Regions from separate parts of the Homo sapiens genome. Here regions 2 and 3 are each linked to region 1. Evidence: fine-mapped expression QTL. A gene starts in region 1. Each other region holds a variant in brackets. All regions are shown on one strand. Distances are from middle to middle.

What was found. PIP is the estimated chance that this variant, and not a neighbour inherited with it, causes the effect. A credible set is the group of variants that fine-mapping cannot tell apart.
Region 2: its variant is the best candidate, but not a certain one, in a credible set for the expression of COQ9 in sigmoid colon (GTEx, PIP 0.66).
Region 3: its variant is the best candidate, but not a certain one, in a credible set for the expression of COQ9 in sigmoid colon (GTEx, PIP 0.56).

The regions. Positions count from the first base shown.
Region 1 is chr16:57,445,347-57,449,346 of GRCh38, forward strand. COQ9 (coenzyme Q9) reads left to right here and starts at 2,133. Exons shown (of 9, transcript NM_020312.4): 1 at 2,133-2,232. The coding sequence starts at 2,160. It overlaps CIAPIN1 (cytokine induced apoptosis inhibitor 1), which reads right to left and starts at 2,039. Exons shown (of 9, transcript NM_020313.4): 1 at 1,996-2,039. RefSeq lists an enhancer at 1,951-2,245.
Region 2 is chr16:57,470,700-57,474,938 of GRCh38, forward strand. It overlaps POLR2C (RNA polymerase II subunit C), which reads left to right. Exons shown (of 9, transcript NM_032940.3): 9 at 276-1,310. The coding sequence ends at 420. DOK4 (docking protein 4) reads right to left here. Exons shown (of 9, transcript NM_018110.5): 6 at 4,094-4,239; 7 at 3,202-3,340; 8 at 2,914-3,037; 9 at 1,223-2,796. The coding sequence ends at 2,678. Among named protein-coding and RNA genes, the nearest start is that of POLR2C, 10 kb to the left of the region's middle. RefSeq lists enhancers at 2,291-2,812, 2,813-3,333, 3,999-4,239. The variant C/T (reference allele first, on the strand shown) is at 2,304.
Region 3 is chr16:57,311,461-57,315,699 of GRCh38, forward strand. No RefSeq gene overlaps it. Among named protein-coding and RNA genes, the nearest start is that of TRL-CAG2-2, 13 kb to the left of the region's middle. The variant A/G (reference allele first, on the strand shown) is at 1,821.

The DNA.
Region 1 (4,000 bases):
AAATACAAAGATTAGCTGGGCATGGTGGCGTGCACCTGTAATCCCAGCTACTTGGTAGACTGAGGTAGGCAGAATTGCTTGAACTCAGGAGGCGGACGTTGTAGTGGACCAAGATCTTGCCACTGCACTCCAGCCAGGGAGACAGAGTGAGACTCCATCTCAAAATAAAAAAAAATTAAATTAAAAACATAAAATTAACTAACTGAAGCTCTTGTGCACATACATGTCACTGCCTGGCCTCTGGGTGACCAGTACCAAGTGGGCCTAACCAGCCTGCTGTGCAATCCAAGTCAGCCATTGCCCCTCTCTGGGCCTCAGTTTCCCTGCCAGCTTTAGCAGAATGGTAGGAAGGCACAATTACAACCTGCAAATGAGACCTAAGAAACCTACTATGTGCCTGTCCCTACACGGGAGACAGACAAGAAGACACTTGTTCCCTGCCCTCAAGAGAACGCTCTGTCTAGACACTTAGACTAAGACCTTAGAGGTTTTTTTTTTTTTTTTTTTTTTTTTTTTTTTGGCAGAGTCTTGCTCTGTTGCCCAGGCTGGAGTGCAATGGCACAATCTTGGCTCACTGCAACCTCCGACTCCGGGGTTCAAGCGATTCTCCCGCCTCAGCCTCCCAAATAGCTGGGATTACAGGCACCCACCACCACACCCAGCTAATTTTTGTATTCTTTGTAGAGATGCGGTTTCGCCATGTTGCCCAGGCTGGTCTCGAACTCCTGAGCTCAAGTGATCCACACGCCGCAGCCTCCCAAAGTGCTGGGATTACAGGCATGAGCCTGGCCCAGAATTTTTTTTAAAAAGTGAGAATCAACAATGAAACAGGAACGTCTCCAGGCATTTGGCGTGTGTCAGGAATTAGGGTTTCAGAAAGGATACCCAAATGTTAGTTTCCACAGGAAAGGCTCATTCAAAGATGGATGGATAGAACTCAGAAACAAATCCTTATGGAGAGGAGTGTTTTACCTAAAACCAGAAATATGGATCTAAAATTTTAACCTTTGGGGTAAGTTTTGGCTTAGGAGGTCTTCCCCGCACCCGTGCAGGGGGGAGCCGGATATTCTGAAAAGACTAGATTTGACAAGGGGTGTGCAAAGCACAACTTTAACAGACACAATGATGGGGTCTGACTGCAAACACAAAATCGACAGAATCACATGCTCTTGTCGTCAGTTACTCTTAGCCCAAAAACCGTTTACTTCTTCCTACTAAGCCTTCTCTGATGACACCCCCGTGAAGTGCTCTGTTAGTGGCTAGACCGTGACCTCCTTGAGCCATCCAGAGCTTGGCACTCAGTAATGTCAGAATGAAGGGCACCAGCCTTTCCCGAACTTGCAGATCCTACAAATCACCCGAGGGAGTGGTTAAAATGAGATTCCTGGACCACACCCAGACCCACTCAATCAATCCTTCTGGACAAAGGCCTAGCTGTCTGTTCTAGTAACAAGCATCCTTCCGATCTGGATACTTAATTATATCAACTCAACACGCTGGGGGTTCGGACAAGTTGCAGGTTCGAAATTACAATCGTGAGCTCAGGTACCCCCCGACTCCAAGGCTTTCGTGCTTTGCTGCCAGGAACCCCCAGGGACCAAAACGTCACGGGGACTGAGGCCCAAGGTCACAACGATTGGCTACTGGTAGGACCGGGTCTCAGAACCAGGTCTCCCCGATCCCAAGCTCGGAGCCGTTTCTCCTCAGCGTGGTGTCCCCGGGGCCTCAGAGTAGGGCCGGCTGCGCAAGGGACGAGGCAGCCGGGGAACGGCAGAAATTCCCAGTCAGGACCCCAGGGAGGTTAGGGCCGGCCCTGGCCCCTCACACCGACTTCTCAGGAATAAACCAGCCGGGGCTTTCAGCGGGGCGGCCGTGGCTGCGTTCCCATCGAGGAACGGGGTGGGAAGAGAAAATGAGAGGATGTGGGAACGAGGGTGGGCCGGGAGGGGACAGTTGAGGGAGCTCTGGCGCTCAGCTGGCCCCCACCACTCTCACCTGCCGCCTGGGCTCGCTCCCGGCTTCTCTCCAGCCGTCGACTCCACGCCTTGCGCCTCTCGCGAGAGGAGGAGGCTCCACGGAGCGACGACTTCCGCCCTCCTTAGGGCCGTGGTCCCGTAGCTACCGGTCGCGTCGCCGTGGGCGACGTGCCCGCTTCCAAAATGGCGGCGGCGGCGGTATCTGGTGCGCTTGGCCGGGCGGGCTGGAGGCTCCTGCAGCTGCGATGCCTGCCCGGTGAGGGGGCTGCCAAGCCGGGGAGAGGCGGGGAGCGCGGAGGGGGCGCGAGGCCGGCTTCAGCTGGGTTCGACGGTGGGGGGAAGAGGCCGTTGGGGCGGCCCACGAGCAAGGTGAGGTGAAGGGCATCGGCGCGGGCTCGGGCGAGCCGCCTGGCTAGCTTCGGCCCTGCTCCGCTGTCTGTGAGGGGCAGATGCAGCGGGGCAGGGCCTGTCACCCCCATTTCATGGAGTTGGCAGAGCCTCAGAGAGGGCTCGGGGTACGAAAGTCACGCAGCCTGAGCCTGTTGGTTACAGAACTGGCAGTCGCAGACCCATTCTCAAGTCCATTGCCAAGTCCACTGGAAGGACAGGTGGACACGGCCACAGAGAGCCTAGTCCATTGTTTCCCGAAAGCCAGCCGTTTCCTCACCACTTCACGAATTCTGTGATACTCTCTTACCACCTTTGCCACTATGTACTCAGTATTTTTATTTTTAAATAGGAGTTCTTAAAGAGGAAACTTTATATCATTGTCATAAATGGAAAACTAATATCGCCTTCCTTAATTAGAACGTATGCATTAACACTTTAGCATACATACATAACTGATGAAACGTTCACCTGTATTTCACCTAAAATCTTCTCATGACCCTCAGTGGTACTACAGTCATACTTTGCATCTGCTCCTTCCTTTTCAAAGTTTTGCGGATATTTGTGCCGTATCTTTCAGTACATGTATTAAAATATTGATATTTTGGCACATACTATTCTGTTTCTTTTTTTTCTTTTTTTTTTTTTTCTGAGACAGGGTCTGGCTCCTCAGCCTCCCAAGGAGCTGGGACTACAAGTGCGTGCCACCCTACTTGGCTTAATTTTGTTGTTGAGACAGAGTCTCACTCTGTCACCCAGGCTGGAGTGCAGTGGTACAATCTCGGCTCACTGCAGCCTCTACCTCCTGGGTTCAAGTGATTCTCCTGCCTCAGCCTTCCTAGTAGCTGGGGTTGTGCCACCATGCCCAGCTAATTTTTTATTTTTAGTAGACGGGGTTTCACCATGTTGGCCAGGCTAGTCCAAAACTCCTGACCTCAAGTTATCTGCCTGCCTCAGCCTCCCAAAGTGTTGGGATTACAGGTATGAGCCACCGCCTAGCCCCCTTTTGTTGTATTTATACAAAATTCCAAACTAAAGATGTGTAGTAAAAGTAATGTCTATGACCCCGCAAATCCACCAAGAGAAATGAAGGTATGTGTCTACAAAAAAGTTAGTACAAGTATATTCATAGCAATTTTATTCATAGTAGCCAAACACAGAAACAGTCCAGTTGTCTAGCAACAGAATAGTATTTTTTTTATGGAATACTATTCTGCAATAAAAACTAAAAATCAGTCAAAGAGAAAGCTGGACACTAAAGTGATAAGGACCATTTTTAATCAGTAATAACTATTGCAATAGGGAAAAGAGTCTAGCATGAACGGAGCCCAACCTTGAGTTTAGAGCATGCAGAAGTCACTGGGTGTTTCAAAGAAAAAATGAGGGAGGAGGGAGGAAGGCAGGTGGGGACTCAGTAGAGTCAGGATAGTGAATAATTATAAATAAGATTGGTCTGCTAGCTGGCAGTTAACAAAGTTAGGATTCTGTTTTCCCACAGGGAGACAAGCCCTATCCTTCTTAAGTGTTAGCCTGAACAAACAGTAAAATTTTTTTTGACAGCCTTGAGTTTTCTCAGGCAGGCACTTTAAAGGGGGGTAGGGTTATCTTAAGGGATGTGGCCCTGAGTGATGCTTATG
Region 2 (4,239 bases), 25 kb after region 1:
TTTCCACTCTCTCCTCAGGGGGCATGCATACATACAGAACTTTAGGATTTTCACAGGTACCTTATGAGGTAGTTGTAGCCTCCTTGAGGTTGTGCAAAGTGTGTTGAAACTACCCTATGTAAGAGGTTTTACATGAAAGGAAGTTAGCCCTGGCCCAAGGTCAAGTTCCATGTGGGAACAGAGCCAAGACCCGGAAGGAGGAAGGGTTGTCCATGGCCAGAGCTCGGGTCGGCCAGCCTGCCTCGCAGTGCACTCACTGGACTCTTGCCTCCTAGGTTTTACTACAATGTGGAGTCCTGTGGCTCTCTGCGTCCTGAAACCATTGTCCTGTCAGCCCTCTCAGGATTGAAGAAGAAACTGAGTGATTTACAAACTCAATTAAGCCACGAGATCCAGAGTGATGTGCTAACCATAAATTAACTGCAGCTTGCCTGCTTCAGCAAAAACGGAGATTCAGGCCAGCAGCTGGATATGGGGGTCTCTCTTCAGACTCTTCTCGTTTCTGAGAATCTAGTCTACTGTTGGTTGAGCTTCTTGGCAGGACATCAGTACCAACTAGAAGTGGGTCATAGATAGATTACCAGGGATGCAGTGGTGTTTAGGCAGGATAGGTCTTTACTGGCCCTGACTGCTGTTAATAATTGGCAGCAGTGCTCCCCAGATCCCAGAAGGTCCCTGCTGGAGTGTTTCCAGTGCACCTGTAGGGAACCAACTAGACTTCTCTCCTGGTTAGTCCAGCTCTTTACTCTAAACCCTTTCTGTCCAAAATGAGTCATTTTCAGTTGTACCTTAGATGTCTGGTGTTGAGGATCAAGTGCCATAGCCTTTATTCAGGGGGCCTATAAACCCTTCCAGTTCTTGCCCCAGGGCTGGCCTGCTAGCGCTTCAAATTCCCAGGTGTCCCTAATTTGAGAAGTAACCTTTTGGAATAGCATTAGACCCTGGCTGTCCCCTCCCCACCAAATAAACATGATATTTCATTCTCTGTCCAGCAGTCATGAACCCCTTCACCTCCAATGACCTGATCATTTAGTTTGGTGGGGGTGGGGGTGGGGGTGGGGGTGGAAGCAGCCGCAGGAGCAAGGGCCCCTCCCACATACACAGGAGGAGTATTTCATTTCTCCTTAATGAAGGCTCTGGCCCTAACCCCTCAGCACTGTCTCCAGATAGGAACATGCACAAAGCAGTTAATTAGGCAGCCTGGAGAAAACCAGAGATCCAGTACAGAAAGGAAAGGATATTTATTGATTAACAGAAGTTGTCTTTTTAAAAGTGTTTATTTTTGGCAATAAAGAGCACAACATAATCTCCTTCATGCGTCATCGTGCCACTTAGCTGAGCCAGCCAGCTCTGCCTCCCTCCCCAAAGACCTTTGGACCCCAGTTCCCCTCTACAGGCTAGCTCATCCCTCTGGGTGGTCATTCCCCGGGTCACGTTGAGAGCGAGGCTGACTGCACCACCTCCCTAGCTCAAGGGCTCCTTTGGGAGGGGCCGCGTGCTTTATCATCCTCCTGCCACAACTCAAATAGTGGTTATTTACAAGAAGGTCTGTTCCCACAAATCAGGACCCTAAAGTATTAAAAAACAAAACCCAAAAAACAACAAAAAACCCCACACAACCAAAAGTTTGACGTGAATAGAAAGATAGCCCTTCTGCATGGTAGTCAACAAATACCAGCACTAGAAAATCAATTGCTTTAATTGCATTGCAGCAGGGAGCCTCAGCACCATGTGGGGAGGAGGAAATGGGAAGGTCTTGGTTTCAGAGTGCTTTTGGCTGGCCAGAGGGTGGCCAAACAGGGCAAGGGGGCTCCCTCTGCTTGGGCATTGTCCACCCCTGGTCAGTGAGAGGGGGGCAGCAGGGGTGCTCCCCACGGCAGTCCTGCTGCGGCCTTCCCTCCTGGCCTATTCCTGGGGCAGGAACAAGCTCCAGCCTTCCTCCACATGGCTGAGGTAATCAGCACCCCTACCCCAGGGGCATCTTCCCAGCCTACAAAGCAGGAAGGAGCCTGTGCAGAAGTTACATTTTAAAACCAGATTTTCACCTGAGGCGTCAACCAGATGTCACCTCTGCTTAAAACTCCAACTGCAAGGCTGGCAAGCAGCACAGAGGAAGTGCAGATCCTTCCTGTGTCACTCCAGGCCCAGAGGAACTGAGAAGCCACCTGCTGTTCCGGCCCTTGGGCTGTCTGGGAAAAGCCAGCAGTCAGAGTGCCAGCCTCAAGCTCTGATTATCCCCCTCCTGTGGCCCTGGTAGTTCAAGCAGGTCCTGGCAGCAGGAGGGCTGTGCCATGGAGGATGGA[C/T]ACGACTGCACTCATACTCAAAAACAGCCTTGACCGTGGCCTGGTCATGGGATTAAAAAATTTGTGTGTATTGGTGGGGAAGGATGGGGTGAGGGTGAGGGGATCTCATTGATACAGAGTATGTCATAAGCCATATATATTAAAATCATTAACAGTATATAGTCCCACGGTAGCTCCAACCCCTCACACATGCTCAGGTGGTGTGGCCAGCCCTTTGCCTCAGTCCAGCCTCATCCTTGGGGGCAAGGAGGGGGCAGCTTGCTCCCTTTCTCCAGGCTCTTGGCCGACAGCCCCCTGAGGCTGTCCACGGTACACTGCAGCCAGCCCCGCAGCAGGCAGCCCCCAGCAGTCATCGGTGCTCGCCAGCACTGTGGTCACTGGGATGGGGTCTTGGCCTCACTGCTGTCCCCCTGGCTGGGCTTTGGCTTTAGCAGGATGAATCTGTTGAGGAGGTCTGTTTCCGAGCTGGCCTGGGCTGCCCCATACCCCTCACCTGTGGGCACAGAAGCAGGCTCAGAACTCAGAGCTAGGTCAAAAGACCCCTGCCCAATAGGCCTCATCCTCCACAAAGCCTCCTGGCAGGTGGGTGTGGGGCATGGAAGCGACTCACCAGCATAGCTGGAGGCTTCGGCGATGTTCTGGGAACCAGTGATGTGGTGCCAGTAGGCACTGCGCGGCAGCATGGTCGTGGGTGTGCAGGGATACGAGTAATGTTCCGTGCCCTTGTTCAGCAGCTGTGGGGCAAAGGAAGGGGTCACTCCCATTAGTGGCTTACAGTATCCCTGAGCAGCCACCCCAAGACCCTACCTGCCTCCACTGTGTACCCCAGGCACTTGGCCCTGCCTGCCCGCCCGTTCCCCCCTCCCCCCGTACCCTGGACTGATGCCCGCTGCCTCACCCTCACGTTCTTCTCCATTTCCAGCAGGACCCGCTTGTGCTGCTCTGCGATGGCCAGGGTGGCACTGTGGACGCGCTGGTAAATCTGCTCCCCCTCTTGTGTCTGGAAGGTATAGAGTCCTTCCCCAGCATCACACATCCTGGGGACACAGCACAGAGGGCAAGATGGTGGGGACCCACCACAGACATGCATGTGATTAGTTAGGCTCTCTTGCAACTGCAAGTTGTGGTTGCATTCCAGGCCGGGAGGACAGGTAGGGCTGTGGTCTGGGGGTCCGACCACACGGTGCAAATGTGCTGAGCATATTCTATACCAGCTGGTGCTTGAAATGCATTATAAGAATTAACCCATTCAGTTTTCTCTACCACCTCCCTCTGGTCTCTGTACCATTAATGGTTTCCTCATTGTTATGCATTTTCCCAAACCATTTTATAGATGAGGAAACTGAGGCATACAGAAGCTAAGTAACTCAACCAAGGTTCTGCAGAGGATTATATGGAATTTCAGTCTAGGCAGACTGACTCCAGAGTTCAAGTGAGGGGATACCCAGTCTTCACTATAATTCTAGGAGGTTAGGTACTTTATTATCCCCGAAACCCAGACTCAGATCCACAGTCACAGAAGTAGTAAGTGCCTGAACCTGCATTTGACTTAAGCCAAAGTAGTATATGATTTTTGGTAAATAGCTTCACTTGACCTGCATGCTGTGGGCAAGTTACTCCTCTAAGCCTCCATTTCATTTCTTCGTCTGTAAAATGGGAACATTACATTCCCCCTTGGGATTGCTAGGCCAATAAGTAAACCAAGCTCCTAGCACAGTGCCCAACACAGAGTGAATGGCAGCCACCATCACACCATAGTAGGACAGGGCTGGGAGGCGAGAGGGTCCTACCGGCCAGCCTCGAAGGTAAAGCGTGTGGCATCCCGGCCATAGCGGCGCAGTGAGCAGAGGGGCCACGAGACGAGCTTCACACGGGGGTTGTGGATGTCCCAGAGGTAGATGTTCTCGTGGGTGATCTGCAGCTTGCACTCGCCATA
Region 3 (4,239 bases), 130 kb before region 1:
TGTGTGTGTGTGTGTGTGTGTGTGTGTCAGAGAGAGAGAGAGAGAGGAGAGTCTTAGGCTACGTGTGTCCCCACCAGACCCCACACTCATGTGAGCTGGGACTCTTCAATCCCCACAGATCTTGGTGCCTGCTTCCCTGTAGGAACTGTTTTTGTTTTTGAGACAGGGTCTTGCTCTGTCACCCAGGTTGGAATGCAGTGGCTCGATCATGACTCAATGCAGCCTCAACCTTCTAGGCTCAAATGATCCTCCCACCTCAGCCTCCCGACTTGCTGGGACTTTAGGCATGCACCACCAAGCCTGGATAACTTTTGTATTTTTTGTAGAGACAGAGTCTCACTATGTTGCCCAGGGTGGTCTCGAATTTCTGGACTCAAGTGATCCTCCTGCCTTGGCCTCCAAAAGTGCTGGGATTTCAGTCACTGAGGCTGGCCTCCTTGTAGGAAGTATTTATTAATTGAAAGAACAAATGAATAAATCCCCCAATAAATCCCCAATTCAGAGTGTTTCCCCCGTATGTTCATAGCACCCCAACTAGGGCCCTCAGTACTTGTGCTCAAGTCCTCAAGATTACATTTTGGGGATCCAGTTCTCTCCTGGTTAATGTCTGACTATGGAAGAGAAGGATGTTCCTCTCTCCACCTGCCCAGCTCTTCAATTGACCTCTTGGCCATCAGATTGAGTGGCCACCCTGTGCCAGCCCCAGAGACCCCACGTGGGTCTGGGGGCAGTACTGTGTGTTTTCATGAAGTTCCTAGTTGTCTCTGGAGTGTTCGGGAACCACATTTACAGGTGAGTCAAATGGAGCCACAACTGAATGTTCAGGTCCCCATCCTCTGAGAACTGTTGGGGGAAAACTGAGGTAAGGGATTTGGAAACGTTCAGAGAAGATGAAGAGGGTCTGGAGCAAGGGTGAGTGCAGATCCTCAGGAGCAGATGGTCCCTTTCAAGCTATTTGTGCACACCTCAGGAGGCAGGAGTGTTGAACTGTGAGGTTCTTCATCAAATCTCTTCAAGGCATTAGTGCCATGTGGGTGGGAGAGGTGACGAAAGGAAGCCCTAGAATTCTGCTAGCTTGGCGAGGGGCGGTGGCTCACGCCTGTAATCCCAGCACTTTGGGAGGCTGAGGTGGGCAGATCACCTGAGGTCAGTAGTTCAAGATTAGCCTGACCAACATGGAGAAACCCCGTCTTTATTAAAATTACAAAAAATTAGCTGGGCGTGGTGGCACATGTCTGTAATCCCAGCTACTCAGGAGGCTGAGGCAGGAGAATCGCTTGAACCTGGGAAGCAGAGGCTGTGGTGATCCGAGATCACGCCATTGCACTCCAGCCTGGGCAACAAGAGCGAAACTCCGTCTCAAAAAAAAAAAAAAAAAAATTCTGCTAGCTTACCGGCAGATCACCTGAGATTAGGAGTTTGAGACCAGCCTGGCCAACATGGTGAAACCTCGTCTCTACAAAAAATACAAAGATTAGTTGGGCATGGTGGCACATGCCTGTAGTCCCAGTTACTCGGGAGGCTGAGGCAGGAGGATCAGTTGAGCCCCGGAGGTGGAGGTTGCAGTGAGCCGAGATCGTGCCACTGCACTCCAGCCTAGGCGACAGAGTAAAACTCTTTCTCAAAAATAAATACATAAAATAAAAAGAATTCTGCTGCCTTGGAATCTTGGGCAGAAGGGCAAGGGCATTGAGGGAGGGGCCCAGCTTTGGCCGGGGGACAGGTGGCATCTGGCTGGCACAATAGTGTAACTAGAAGACCACAACTAGGACTTGATCGGGCAGAAGAGGACAGGACTTTGGCGGTGATGGCTTGGCCAC[A/G]AGATGGATGTGGCGTCTCTGAGGGGTGGGCTCTGACAGAGGGTATGAGGGGAGGCTGGTGGGGATGGGTGTGTGCCAGCATCTATGTCTATGGGTGTGTAGAAGTGTGTCTTTGTGTCTCTGGAAATGAGAACACGTGTGAGTGTCTGAAGTGTGTTTTTGTACATTGCACATGTGTGATTGTGTGCAAGTGTATATGTTGGTTCAGAAATAGTCTATGGGGATGAGGGCACTGGGCTGGGTGAGTGTATATATGTCTGTGGAGGCATTTTCATGCAGCTGGGTTAGTCACTGTGGGGTTTTGTGTGTATGTGTGTGTGTATGTGTGTGTAAGTGGGTGTATATGTGTATATATGTATATATGTGTGTATGTGTGTATGTGTGTGTATATGTATATGTGTGTATGTCTGTGTGCATGTGCGTGTATATGTGAGTATGCATGTGTATGCATGTGTGTGTATGTGTGTGTATATGTATGTGTGTGTGTGTATGCGTGTATATGTTTGTGTGGTGGGGATGAGGAGTGATAAGGATGGGGCAAAGAAGCACTATGAACTTGGGATTGAGCTGATCAGAGCTGTACTGCTGGTAGACTTGTGGAAAGTTCTAGACTTGGGGGCAGAAGAGCCATATTCAAATCCCACCTTTGCCACTTTTCAGCACATGGCCTCAATGGTTTCTCCCCCTCTCCGTGCCTCAGTTTCCTCATCTATAAAATGGGCATCATTACCCTTATGATCTCCTGGGGCTGACCAGGACACCAAGAACCCTGGTGGCTCAGTTCACCCTGAGGAAAGGGAATGAGAAGGGGGCTCCTGTTCTTCTGTGCTCTTGGAATTTCTTACCAAGAGCATGTGTTATTTTTATAATAAAAAAGAAGCTGGAAAAAGGTGTCGGTGAACTGGAACCCCTGGACACATTTCTCAGCCCAGCTGGGGAGATGCTTGTGGTTCTGGAGAGAGAGGACCACAGTCAGGGCTTGAGGTTGTTTGCCAGGGGATAGGGTGTGAGGCTGGGTAGGCTCTGGATGGCCTCTCCCTCCCCAGGAGCCAGCTCTGAATGTCATTGCCTAACTTTGAGAAGATAGGGATGCTGCTTCCAGGAGGCCTGCCAGCTTGTATACCTGACCAAGGAGAATGGAACCCCACCCAGTGCCTGGACAAACAGGACAAAATCACCTGCAGAAACAGCTCCTACCAGACATGAGATTAAGTCAAATGGAAACTTAGCTTTCACAATGTCAGTTTCTTTTTCTTTCCTTTTACTTATTGACTTTTAATTCTCCCATGTCCCAGATGAATCACAAAAAGCTGTTATCAGAGATTTCCTCTGATTACCTTGCCTCTGGGGAGGGAGGTAAAGGCTTTCACTTTCCTTTTTTGTACCTTTCATAATAAGGTTTGAATTTTCTAACCTTGTGTATCTCTTTTCCCTGTTTCTGCCCCCACTTCCTCCTCCTGCAGGCATTAGGTCTCTGACCAGAGATCCTGCCTTTTGGGGGGTTTTCTTCTTGGAATCTCAGTGTATGTGTATTAAAAGGAAACAAAAACTGCAGTCAATGTTATATAATTTTTTAAAAATACCAAAGTGCTGGATTTCAATACTTTTCTATTTTTTACAGTGCATACATATATATGTATATATATGTGTGTGTATATATATCCCCCCCACAGGGATTACATTTGCATAATTTAACTTTCAAAAGGTGCAAAGTAAGAATAAACAGATGAAAACTTTCCTTCCATCCCTGACTCCTGCTTCCTTCCCCAGAGGCAAGCCCTGCGGTACTGGTTCCTCATGTAGCCCTCCAGGAAATTTTCTGCATATACAAGTTGATGTATACAGGCATTCCCACCTTCCCCCACCTTTCTCCTTAAACTGTCATCTTCTATGCATACTGGCCTTGTTCTTTTTCCTCCTCCACTTAACAATGTATCTTGGTGGTTGTTTGCAAGAGCACAGAAATGCCTATAAAATCTGGTCATTTTACAGAAGGGGAAACTGAGGCCCAGAGAGGTCTAGAACCCAGTCTTGAATCACGGTTCAGGGCTCCTTCTTCAAGTTGAAGGTGAAATGGGTAGGGATAAACTTTTCCTGCTCAGACACATCCTTTTACAAGGCTCCTTCACTGAGTGAAATGGAACTTAGGCCAAGATTTATTTGTTTGTTTGTCTTAGGTGCCTCGGATTCTCAGAAGGAAAACAGGAAACCAGTGCCTCGCTCCCTCAGAGATGGCTGCCTTCCAGCCCAAACAGGGGTCTGGTCTGTGGAACTCCCTCCAGCTCTGCCACGATAACTGTGTGGCCTCCGGTGGGTCGCCTCCCCTCTCTACATCTCCCCAGCTGGAATTTGTTGCTTTCTCTTCTGGGTTCCCACAACATGGTTTATAACCATTTCAACCAACCCCCTAACTTCCTCT